Linked DNA regions of Homo sapiens. The protein of the gene in region 2 purifies or fractionates together with the protein of the main gene of each other region. This does not show direct contact. Each region holds a gene or a part of one and is shown on either strand. Other genes may lie near its edges.

The links.
Region 1: the proteins of DUSP29 (region 2) and GSR purify together in Homo sapiens (affinity purification with mass spectrometry, with the first as the bait; one large-scale study listed by BioGRID). This does not show direct contact.
Region 3: the proteins of DUSP29 (region 2) and RCC2 purify together in Homo sapiens (affinity purification with mass spectrometry, with the first as the bait; one large-scale study listed by BioGRID). This does not show direct contact.

Annotation. Positions count from the first base shown.
Region 1 is NC_000008.11:30,680,160-30,682,952, forward strand, and holds part of GSR (glutathione reductase, mitochondrial isoform 1 precursor), read right to left. Parts: intron 1,903-2,793; coding exon 1,771-1,902; intron 879-1,770; coding exon 745-878; intron 1-744. UniProt on the Homo sapiens protein: Catalyzes the reduction of glutathione disulfide (GSSG) to reduced glutathione (GSH). Constitutes the major mechanism to maintain a high GSH:GSSG ratio in the cytosol.
Region 2 is NC_000010.11:75,042,586-75,046,238, forward strand, and holds part of DUSP29 (dual specificity phosphatase 29), read right to left. Parts: intron 2,238-3,653; coding exon of another isoform or gene 2,099-2,237; exon of another isoform or gene 1,464-2,098; intron 1,433-1,463; coding exon 1,212-1,432; intron 1-1,211. UniProt on the Homo sapiens protein: Dual specificity phosphatase able to dephosphorylate phosphotyrosine, phosphoserine and phosphothreonine residues within the same substrate, with a preference for phosphotyrosine as a substrate. Involved in the modulation of intracellular signaling cascades.
Region 3 is NC_000001.11:17,429,575-17,433,227, forward strand, and holds part of RCC2 (protein RCC2), read right to left. Parts: intron 1-3,653. UniProt on the Homo sapiens protein: Multifunctional protein that may affect its functions by regulating the activity of small GTPases, such as RAC1 and RALA. Required for normal progress through the cell cycle, both during interphase and during mitosis.

The DNA.
Region 1 (2,793 bases), on a different chromosome or scaffold from region 2:
TAGGAGCCTTCATGATTCAATATCCAGAAATCATAGGCTACTGAGGAATGTTCATGGCACCACCATGCCCGGCCAATTTTTGTATTTTTAGTAGAGATGGGGTTTCACCATGCTGCCCAAGCTACTCTCAAACTCCTGAGCTCAGGCAATCCGCCTACCTTGGCCTCCCAAAGTGTTAGGATTATAGGCGTGAGCCACAGCGCCTGGCCCTGGCCTCTCCTGTTTTTTTTTTTTTTTTTTTTTTTTTTGCTTTGAGATGGAGTCTCGCTTTGTCTCCCAGGCTGGAGGGCAGTAGCATGATCTTGGCTCACTGCAACCTCCGCCTCCCAGGTTCAAGTGATTCTCCTGCCTCAGCCTCCCGAGTAGCTGGGATTACAAGCACGCACCATCATGCCTGGCTAATTTTTGTGTTTTTAGTAGAGACAGGGTTTCACCACGTTGGTCAGGCTAGTCTCAAACTCCTGACCTCAGGTGATATGCCTGCCTCGGCCTCCCAGCGTGCTGGGATTACAGGTGTGAGCCACCACGCCTGGCATCGTCTTTATTTTTTAAAAGGAGTGGAACCTCCTTCTAGATGAAATATTATGAAGAACCCCAAAATGCAGGTAAGACAGATCAAAGTGGGCCTGTCCAGTTGAATCAGAAGGCTCAACTGCTTGGTCTCCCTCCTTTCCACCCCTGCAAAATACTGCCATCCCTGTCCATTTTGCAAGGCACTATTTAGTTTGCTGGATTTTTCCTTACCTTTTCTTCCTTGTTAGCACAGACCATTTTCATCACACATTTTGTTTTCCTTTTGGTAACTGCGTGATACATCGGGGTAAAGCTCGTTGAATAGGTCTTCACATTTTCTATTCCATATTTATGAATGGCTTCATCTACAATGCACATTAAAAAAAGCATCTATCAGAAAACTAAACAATTACACTGAACTATCAAAGAGGGAGATGACCAGAAATACATAACCTCAATCAAACCACGAGGAAATATCAAACCACGCCAAAATGAGAAGTATTCTACAAAATAAATGTCAGTGTCATATAAGACAAAAGAAGGGCTGAGGAATTCTGCCTCTAGATGAAAAGAAAGGCCAGGCACAGTGGCTCATGCCTGTAATCCCTGCACTTTGAGAGGCAGAGGCAGGTGGATCGCTTGAGCCCAGGAGATTGAGACCAGCCTGGGCAACACAGTGAAACCCCATCTCTACAAAAAATTAGCCAGGCATGGTGGTGGTGCAGGCCTGGTAGTCCCAGCTATTCGGGAGGCTGAGGCAGAAGAATTGCTTGAACCCAGAGGCGGAGGTTGCAGTGAGCAGAGATCGTGCCACTGCACTCCAGCCTGGGTGACAGTGGGAGAGCTTGTCTCAAAAAGAAAAAAAAAAAGAAAATGATACTCGGTTTATGTAAGGGCCAGTTCTTAGGAAAGATAGACATGTGTGTGTGTAGAGTGAAAAAATAAAAAAGCAAAAATATTAAGGTTAGAGAGGAGTCCTTTGTATTATTTTTAGAGCTTTTCTTTAAATTTAAAATTAGTTCAAATAAAAAAGCTAAAAAAAAAAGATCAAAGAGATAGGGTGGTGTGAAGGAAAGATACTGTACACTCAAAGTAGTAGCAGGGGAGAAAACTGGAACTGTGACAAGAGAGTAACCAAAAAGCAATGTAATCTGGGGCTGAGATAGGTTTCATCAGCTGACAGAGACCTAATTTAAAGTTGGGGGCAGGGGAAAGAGGAAGGAAACCACAAATGACCTTCAGTTTTTAAATACCTACCTTCCGTGAGTCCCACTGTCCCAATAGGGGGGTGGCTGAAGACCACAGTTGGGATGTTGTTATAATCTAATTTGGAATCTTCCTTATATTCAAAAAGTCGATGGGCAAGTTTTCGGCCAGCAGCTATTGCAACTATGGAGATATTTTAAAATCAGTGTTTATCTTACTGTCTGTTTTAACATAGCTAAATTGTTCCACTAGCCATTTATCCATCTACCTTAATGCCCTAGTTCTGACAGTTTCACACCATTGTTCATTACACTATCTAGATAGTTTAATACAGCGAAGATATGTCATGCCTCAGCGAACAACTCAAAATGATTGGCTTATGAGAATCCTATACATTCTATTACAGGTTGAGCATCCCTAATCCAGAAATTCAAAATCCAAAATCCAAAATGTTGGAGCACCATGATGCCACAAGCAGAAAATTCCACACCTGACCTCATGTGAAGGGTTGCAGTCAAAAACGCAGACAAAAGTATGCCTCATGCACACATTTAAAATATCGTATAAAGTTACCTACCAACTATGTGTATAAGGTGTATGTAAAACAAATGAATTCCGTGTTTCGACTTGGGTCGCATCTGCAAAATATCTCATTATATATATGCAAATATTCCAAAATCTGAAACTGAAAACACTTCTGGTCCCAAGCATTTCAGATAAGGGATGCTCAACCTGTCTGGCCCCACTCCCAAAAGACACATTCACAAGTTCTCACTTACCTGGCAGTTAATCTACTTAATGAAGATATTAGCTTTTTAATACAATATTTATGGAACAAGCTATATTAGTTTTCAGCATCTTTAGTTCTATTTTATAACCCTAAAGTGCTGGAATTACAGGCATGAGCCACTGCGCCTAGAATCTTTATTATTATTATCATTATTATTATATTATTATTTTTTTTTTTTAGACAGAGTCTCGCTCTTGTTGCCAGGCTGGAGAGCAGTGGCGCCATCTCAGCTCGCTGCAACCTCTGCCTCCCGGGTTGAAGCAATTCTCCTGCCTCAGCCTCCC
Region 2 (3,653 bases):
AGGGTTTTTTTTCATTGTGACATTGCTTTCTGAGCCAAAATAATGACAAATTGTTGGTGGCTATGGTTGGCTGTGGGGCCAGGGCCACCTTGGGATGTCCATTAAGGTCTGATATTGTCCAGCAGACCTGGCCTAGGCCCAGCCCCAGGTTGCAAGTTCCTGCAGCAGACTATTTGGTCAGTCACTGAGCCTTGTAATCACAACCTCTTGTGGCAAGAAAGGCTTTCAGTAACCAGATACCCTGAATTATGTGATGGCTCCACAAAGGGGTGTGTGACACATTGGGCTGAAGTCAGAGCACAGATTAGGGAGCTGAAGTCCCTCTGGCCTCTGTGGAATTCCACTGAAGTACACCCTGCAGCAATAACTGTATATTGTCTTACCCCCGATGCGTCCCTAAGCTGTGCCCTTCTCTCCAAAATAGCCTTGTAGCCTTTGCTGGATTAGGGTAGCCAACAGTGCATTCTGAGCACAAAGACTAGCACTGTGATTTAAAAGCTGGATAATTAACACTGGGAAAACTTGGACGCTGGGGGTGCAAAACCCAAATTATACCTCAAATACAGCGTGCCAGTAAAGCCCAGCTTGTCAGCTTTCTACTGGAGGCCTCACGAGGCTGAGTGTAACTGGGGAGTGTAACTTGGTTGGTGGGCAGGAGAATTTAAGGTCTCTCCATGGATTCCCACTCAAGTCAGCTCCCTGAGGGTTTTCTGGCATCAAAGCCCTTGGCTACTAGTTGGGTTCAGGCCCAGGCACAATTAGTGTCTCCGGCCGCAGTCCCAGCTTTGAGAGCTCCCAGACCGCCTCCGCCTTTTGAAGGATGGCAAATGTTCTTTAGCAAAGACTCCGACCAAAAGGCCTTTTATTCTTACGCCCTATTTCCATTCCCCAGAGCTGCAATCAAGGCCCGAACCCCACCAGCAGCACGCTGGGTGGTGCAGGTCCTTAAACCTTCACAGCTTCCAGGGGCTCGGACCTTTACCCTCGGCCACAAGCAGCCCCAGTGGCCCAGCTTTGCGACAAAGATTTCGCACGCGCACATCCCGCTTCCGGCCTGGGCCTCAGACGGGGAAACCTTGGGCTAAGGGCGGAGCCTAGGCTAGGGGCGGAGCCTTAGTGGGGCGGGGAAGGGGCGGGGCCTAAGCTACGGGCGGGGCGAGTCGGGGCGGGGCGGGGCGGGGCCGATCGGGGCGGGGCCGCGGGTCTCTTACTGTGGTCGTCGCTTAGCGCTCTGTCGATGAAGGCTGCCGCCGGGTAGAAGAAGACACTGAGGTCGAAGGTGGGCAGGTCGTCGGCCTCCACGCCGTGGTACTGGATGTCCATGTCGCGGTAGTAGTCGGGCCCAGTGTCCACGTTCCAGCGGCCGTGGGCCGCGTTCAGCACGTGCGTGAACCCCGCCTTCTGCAGCCTATAGCGGTCCAGCGCCGTCGCCCTGGGCGCAGGGGAGAGAAATCTGTGGGCGCGCGGCGCCCTGCCCCGGGTCCGGGAAACTCAGGGGCCACCCACGCTTTCCGCTGTGGATTCCAGTTCCAGAATGAGGACTAGTTATTGCAAATGAAGTCCCAAAGCTCTGCTCTTACCCGGTCCCCTAGGCCACCTGCACTGTTTTGTGATTCTGGCTCGGCTGTCTCAAGAAAGGACAGGGTGGAGGCTGGGGTAGGCAAGCTGAGCTATTCGTTCGTCCATTAGTTCTTTCATCATTCAGTATACACAGCGGAACCTGGTGCTGGCCTCTACGGTGGTCGCAGATCTGGACCTGCCAAATCGCCTGAAAGCCCTCCAGAATAACCTGTTCATCAGGGCTGCCTTCTCCCAACCTCTGCTCTGAACCTGCTGGATGTTTTTAGGGTTTGGAGATGGACGCTCAACTGAATGGTTTAAAGCAAGGCCTTCCATAAGAGGATTGGATTGGGATTGGGCAAAGTTCACAAATTCACGTTGGCACGATGTGAACGGGAAAGTGTTGCTTTGGGGAGCTGTTGCCCAGCTGGGCAGAGCATTGTTCTGAGAAGGAGGGCTTTTTGAGCCATCTGTTGTTTGAATTGATTGCAGGGAAGTTCTTGAAGCCAGCAGTGAAGTTATTTAATGGGCTACAGCTTTATCTTTCTAGGCAAGAATTTCCAGGAACAGTAAAGTCCTCTTGAAGTAGGTGGCTCTGAAATATGACTCGATGAGAAGGCAGCATGGTGGGGCCGGAGTGGAGATGGGCTGCCAGAGGAAACACGGGTTCTTCCTGCCTGTGGGGTGGGGCAGGGAGAGGCCTGTGTCACTACAAGTGTCAACATTTGGTGATGGAGGGGAAGAAGGAGGCAAGCGCGGGCCAAGCCAAGGAAACAGCACCACCTGAGGTATGGAGGCTGGAGACAACGAAGGCCTTTCAGGAAGCATTGTCTATTTCCTGTAATCAATTATCCATCCCCAAATAATTATTTGCAATCTATTATGTGCCAGGCACTGTGCTGGGTGCTGATGGTAAAGAAATGAACAGGGGCCGAGCACAATGGCTCACGCCTATAATCCCAGCACTTTCGGAAGCCGAGGCAGGCAAATCACATGAGGTCAGGAGTTCGAGACCAGCCTGGTCAACGTGGCGAAACCCTGTCTCTACTAATAATACAAAAAGAAAAAACAAAAAACAGCCAGGTGTGATGGCGCATGCCTGCAGTCCCAGCTACTTGGGAGGCTGAGGCACAAGAATCGCTTGAACCCAGGAAGTGGAGGTTGTCGTGAGCTGAGACCACGCCACTGCACTCCAGCCTGGGTGACAGAGTGAAACTGTCTCAAAAAACAAAAGAACAGGTTAGTGAAGTTCCCTCAGGAAGGTCAGATACTAATGGGGGTAGGAAATAAACAAAGATAATTTTAGATAGCAGTGAGAGCTATCCGAAGGACCTAAAACTTCATGACATGATACAAAATGACTGTGGTCCTGCTTCAGGCAAGGCGGTCAGGAAAGGCCACTGTGGGGAGGTGGTGTTTAAGCCAAGACTGAGGGATGAGAAGGCTGAGGAAGAGTTGGAGAGAAAGCGTTTCATCCAGGCAGAGGGAACAACTGCTGAGAACAGAAAGGAAGCCAGTGTGGCTGAAGTGGCAAGGGGAATAGGAGTTTGGAAAGGTAGAGGGGCTGGAGCATGGTGGGCCCTGCCCGCCATAGGAAGGAGTATTATTGCAAGTGTGGTGGAAGTCTGCTAGAGGATTTTAAGAAAGAAGTAAGCATTGTTTACTTTTTTAAAGATCAATCTGGCCAGACAAGGTGGCTCACACCTGTAATCCTAGCACTTTGGGGAGGCCAAAGCGGGAGGGTGGCCTGAGACCAGGAGTTCAAGACCAGCCTGGGCAACATCATGAAACCCCATCTCTACAAGATATAAGGGAAAAAAATTAGCCGGGCATGCTGGCATGTGCCTGTAGTCCCAGCTACTGGGGAGGCTGAAGTGGGAGGATCACCTGAGCTCAGGGAGGTTGAGGCTGCAGTGAGCTGTGATTGCACCACTGCACTCAGTCTGAGCAGCAGAGACTCTGTCTTTAAAAAAAAAAGAAAAGAAAAAAGAAAGAAAGAAAAAGAAAAATCAATCTGGCTGATGTGTGGGGATCCTGGATGCTAGGATCTGTGTTTGGGAGTCAAAGAGAGCTCTAGAGAGTGTTTAAAGAGA
Region 3 (3,653 bases), on a different chromosome or scaffold from region 2:
AGGGCCAAGTCTCTATTTCACATGGCAAGCACGGCCTGCGACCTCAAACCTTAGGAGCCTCACATCACTTCTGCTGCCCACTCTGCCGAGAGCCTTTCCATGGGGACTCAGGAAGAAAACAGTAGAGAACAAGGTTCGATTTCTCCACTGAAGGGAGACCAGGCAGAACACAGCTTTGGTGGGTATGCAGGGGTCTGAATCAGGCGGCCTTTGATGGCACCCTCATGCCGCTGTCCATGAGCCCGGGAGCCAATGGTGAGTGAAACAGGACCTCCCAGGGGCCCGGCTCTCAAGGAACAAGCTGTCACAGCAGCCAGCATACTTCAGTGTTCATCCTCAGTCTCTCAACACAAAGTCATCAGGGCCACCAACTCTCATACTGTCAACGAAAATCTACGCCATTTAAAAAGGCCATTGTTCAATTCTGGGTGGCACTCATAATATTCTCAGCACTTTGCTTCCTTAAATGTCAAAATATACTTTTTCAAGTAGGTTGTTAGTGGAAGACTCAATTCTGAACTCCTCACTCAGTCCACACTGGCAAGGGAAGCATTCACTGCTATCACTTTCCGCTCTTACACATCTTTCCTGGACGTGAAAAGGAAAGGGGTTTCCTTCAGTTTACAGAATTGTTCTTGGAAGGCTTCAGGAAAAAAGTCTGGCAAGGCGCAATGGCTCACGCCTGTAATCCCAGCACTTTGGAAGGCCGAGGCGGGCAGATTGCTTGAGCTTGGAGACCAGGCTGGGCAACATGGCAAAACCTTGTCTCTACAGAAAATAGAAAAATGAGCCTGTGGTCCCAGTTACTTGGGAGGCTGAGGTGGGAGGATTGCTTGAGCTGAGGAGCTGGAGACTGCAGTGAGCCAAGATCACACCTGCTCTCCAGCTTAGGTGACATAGCCAGGCCTTGTCTCAAAAAAAAAAAAAAGGGGGCCAGGCACAGTGGCTCACGCCTGTAATCCCAGCACTTTGGGAGGCTGAGGCGGGTGAATCACGAGGTCAGGAGTTCAAGACCAGCCTGGCCAATATGGTAAAACCCCGTCTCTACTAAAAATACAAAAAAATTAGCCAGGCGTGGTGGCATCCGCCTGTCGTCCCAGCTACTCCAGAGGCTGAGGTAGAAGAATCCCTTGAACCCGGGAGGCGGAGGTTGCAGTAAGCTGAGATTGCACCATTGCACTCCCAGTGTTGCTGCCCAGGCTGGAGTGCAGTGGCGTGATCTCGGCTTGCTGCAACCTCTGCCTCCCGGGTTCAAACGATTCTCTTGCCTCAGCCTCCCAAGTAGCTGGGATTACAGACACTCAGCTAATTTTGTGTGTTTTTAGTAGAGACAGGGTTTCACTATGTTGGCCAGGCTGGTCTCAAATTCCTGACCGCAGGTGATCCACCCACCTTGGCCTCCCAAAGTGCCGATAAAATGCCAATAAAATAACGCCGATGAAAGTTCCCAACCATGCCAATAAAAATGTATTTGTTGGCCAGGCGCGGTGGCTCACACCTGTAATCCCAGCACTTTGGGACGCTGAGGCAAGCAGATCACGAGGTCAGGAGATAGAGACCATCCTGGCTAGCACGGTGAAACCCCATCTCTACTAAAAATACAAAAAAAATTAGCCGGGCATGGTGACCGGCACCTGTAGTCCCAGCTACTCGGGAGGCTGAGGCAGGAGATTGGTGTGAACCCAGGAGGCGGAGCTTGCAGTGAGCCAAGATCGCACCACTGCACTCCAGCCTGGGCGACTGAGCAAGACTCCATCTCAAAAAAAAAAAAAAAAAAAAAAAAAAATATATATATATATATATATATGTGGGCTGGGTGTGGTGGCTCACGCCTGTCATCTCAGCACTTTGGGAGGCTGAAGCAGGCGGATCACCTGAGGTCAGGAGTTCAAGACCAACCATGGTGACAAAGCCAGCCCTGTCTCAAAAAAAAAAAAAAAAAAAAAAGAAAGAAAGAAAAAGAAAAAAGGGCAGCTCCAGGCCCAATCATTCTAACCTCTACAGTGTGATCACCCCATGGGTATGCTTTGGCAGTACGGCTCACGCATTTCTAAGATTACACATCTTCATGACGGATGATTTCCACTTCAATAGGAACCTTTACACGACCCAAACCTGATTAGGGCGTCCCCCAAGATATAGGTTCCGTCACGCTTGCCCACTCCACCACATTATGTAACAGGAAAAAGATGGTCAATCTACAGGAATGCATCCTGCAGTCCTCATGAAAAGGGGAAGTGAGGCCAGCCGCGGTAGCTCATGGCCCGTCATCCCAGCACTTTGGGAGGCCAAAGTGGGTGGATCACCTGCGGTCAGGAGTTTGAGACCAGCCTGGCCAACATGGTGAAACCCTGTCTCTACTAAAAATACAAAAAATTAGCCGGGTGTCTGTAATCCCAGCTACTTGGGAAGCTGAGGCAAGAGAATCGCTTGAACCCAGGAGGCAGAGGTTGCAGCGAGCCGAGATCACACCATTGCACTCCAGCCTGGGCAACAAGAGCGAAACTCTGTCTCAAAAAGAGAAAAAAAAAGTTGGGGGGAGGGAAGTGAAACAACACGGAAAGGGAGAACAACTTTGGTTCATTTAAATTATTTAGAAAATGACCTTAATCAGAGGGTGGCCCAGCCCCTGCAGCACCCACAACTCAGGTTACTTGAATTGGAGCCTAGCTTCCCCTGGTTATCTGCCCTTCTTTGTTTAACTGGCAGGCCTGGCTGGAATATGCTACAGGTCTATATTCAATGGCTTCTGTTGAAGTCCCTGTGGAAGGAGAGGCCTCTGGGTCCTCTGCCCAAGCCTACCAAGTTGGCATGGAGGGGGCAGTAGAGACCCAGGAAGGGTGCTAAGGCACTGGAGACCAAGCTCCCAGGCCAGAGGGCAAGCCTAGAAAAGAGCCCTGGAATGCCAGCAACTGCAGACCAGGCAGGCGGAGGTTCATGGGCACCTGTGCTCAGTATGAACCATTGAAGTCAAACCACCCTACACTGAGATGCAACCACTGCAGCAAAACTTCACAGTGCTGAGGCCACACCAGAAGCCTCAGCTCCATCAGGCCAGAGGGCATGGTTCAGGGGCAAGTTCAGACAGCCAGAGCTTAACCGCAGTGGCCTTGGCCTTGGGGAGGGAGTTTCCTGGGTGACCTGGACATTTGGTCAAGGGCTCATGAAGACTGATCCATCAAGCTAGCTAAGCATTTATAGGCAAACCCAACCACGCCAATAAAAATGTATTTGTGGGCCGGGCATGGTGGCTCACGCCTGTAGTCCCGGCTACTCGGGAGGCTGAGACAGGAGAAGGGCATGAACCCGGGAGGCGGGGCTTGCAGTGAGCCGAGATCGCGCCACTGCACTCCAGACTGGGCGAAAGAGCGAGACTCCATCTTAAAAAAAGAAAAAGAAAAAGAAAAAGAAAAAAATATATATATACACTCACACACACATATATATACACACACACACACATATACATACGTGTGTATACATATACATATATACGTGTGTATGTGTGAAAAACCCCGGTAAACTGAGTCTACTCCAGTGACGGTGGTCAGATTCCTATGAAGGACATTAACTGTTATTCAAGTTTTTACGTCATGGATCCTATTTCCTCACACATTAGATGGAGGTTAGTGTATTTCGTTATTATTTACATA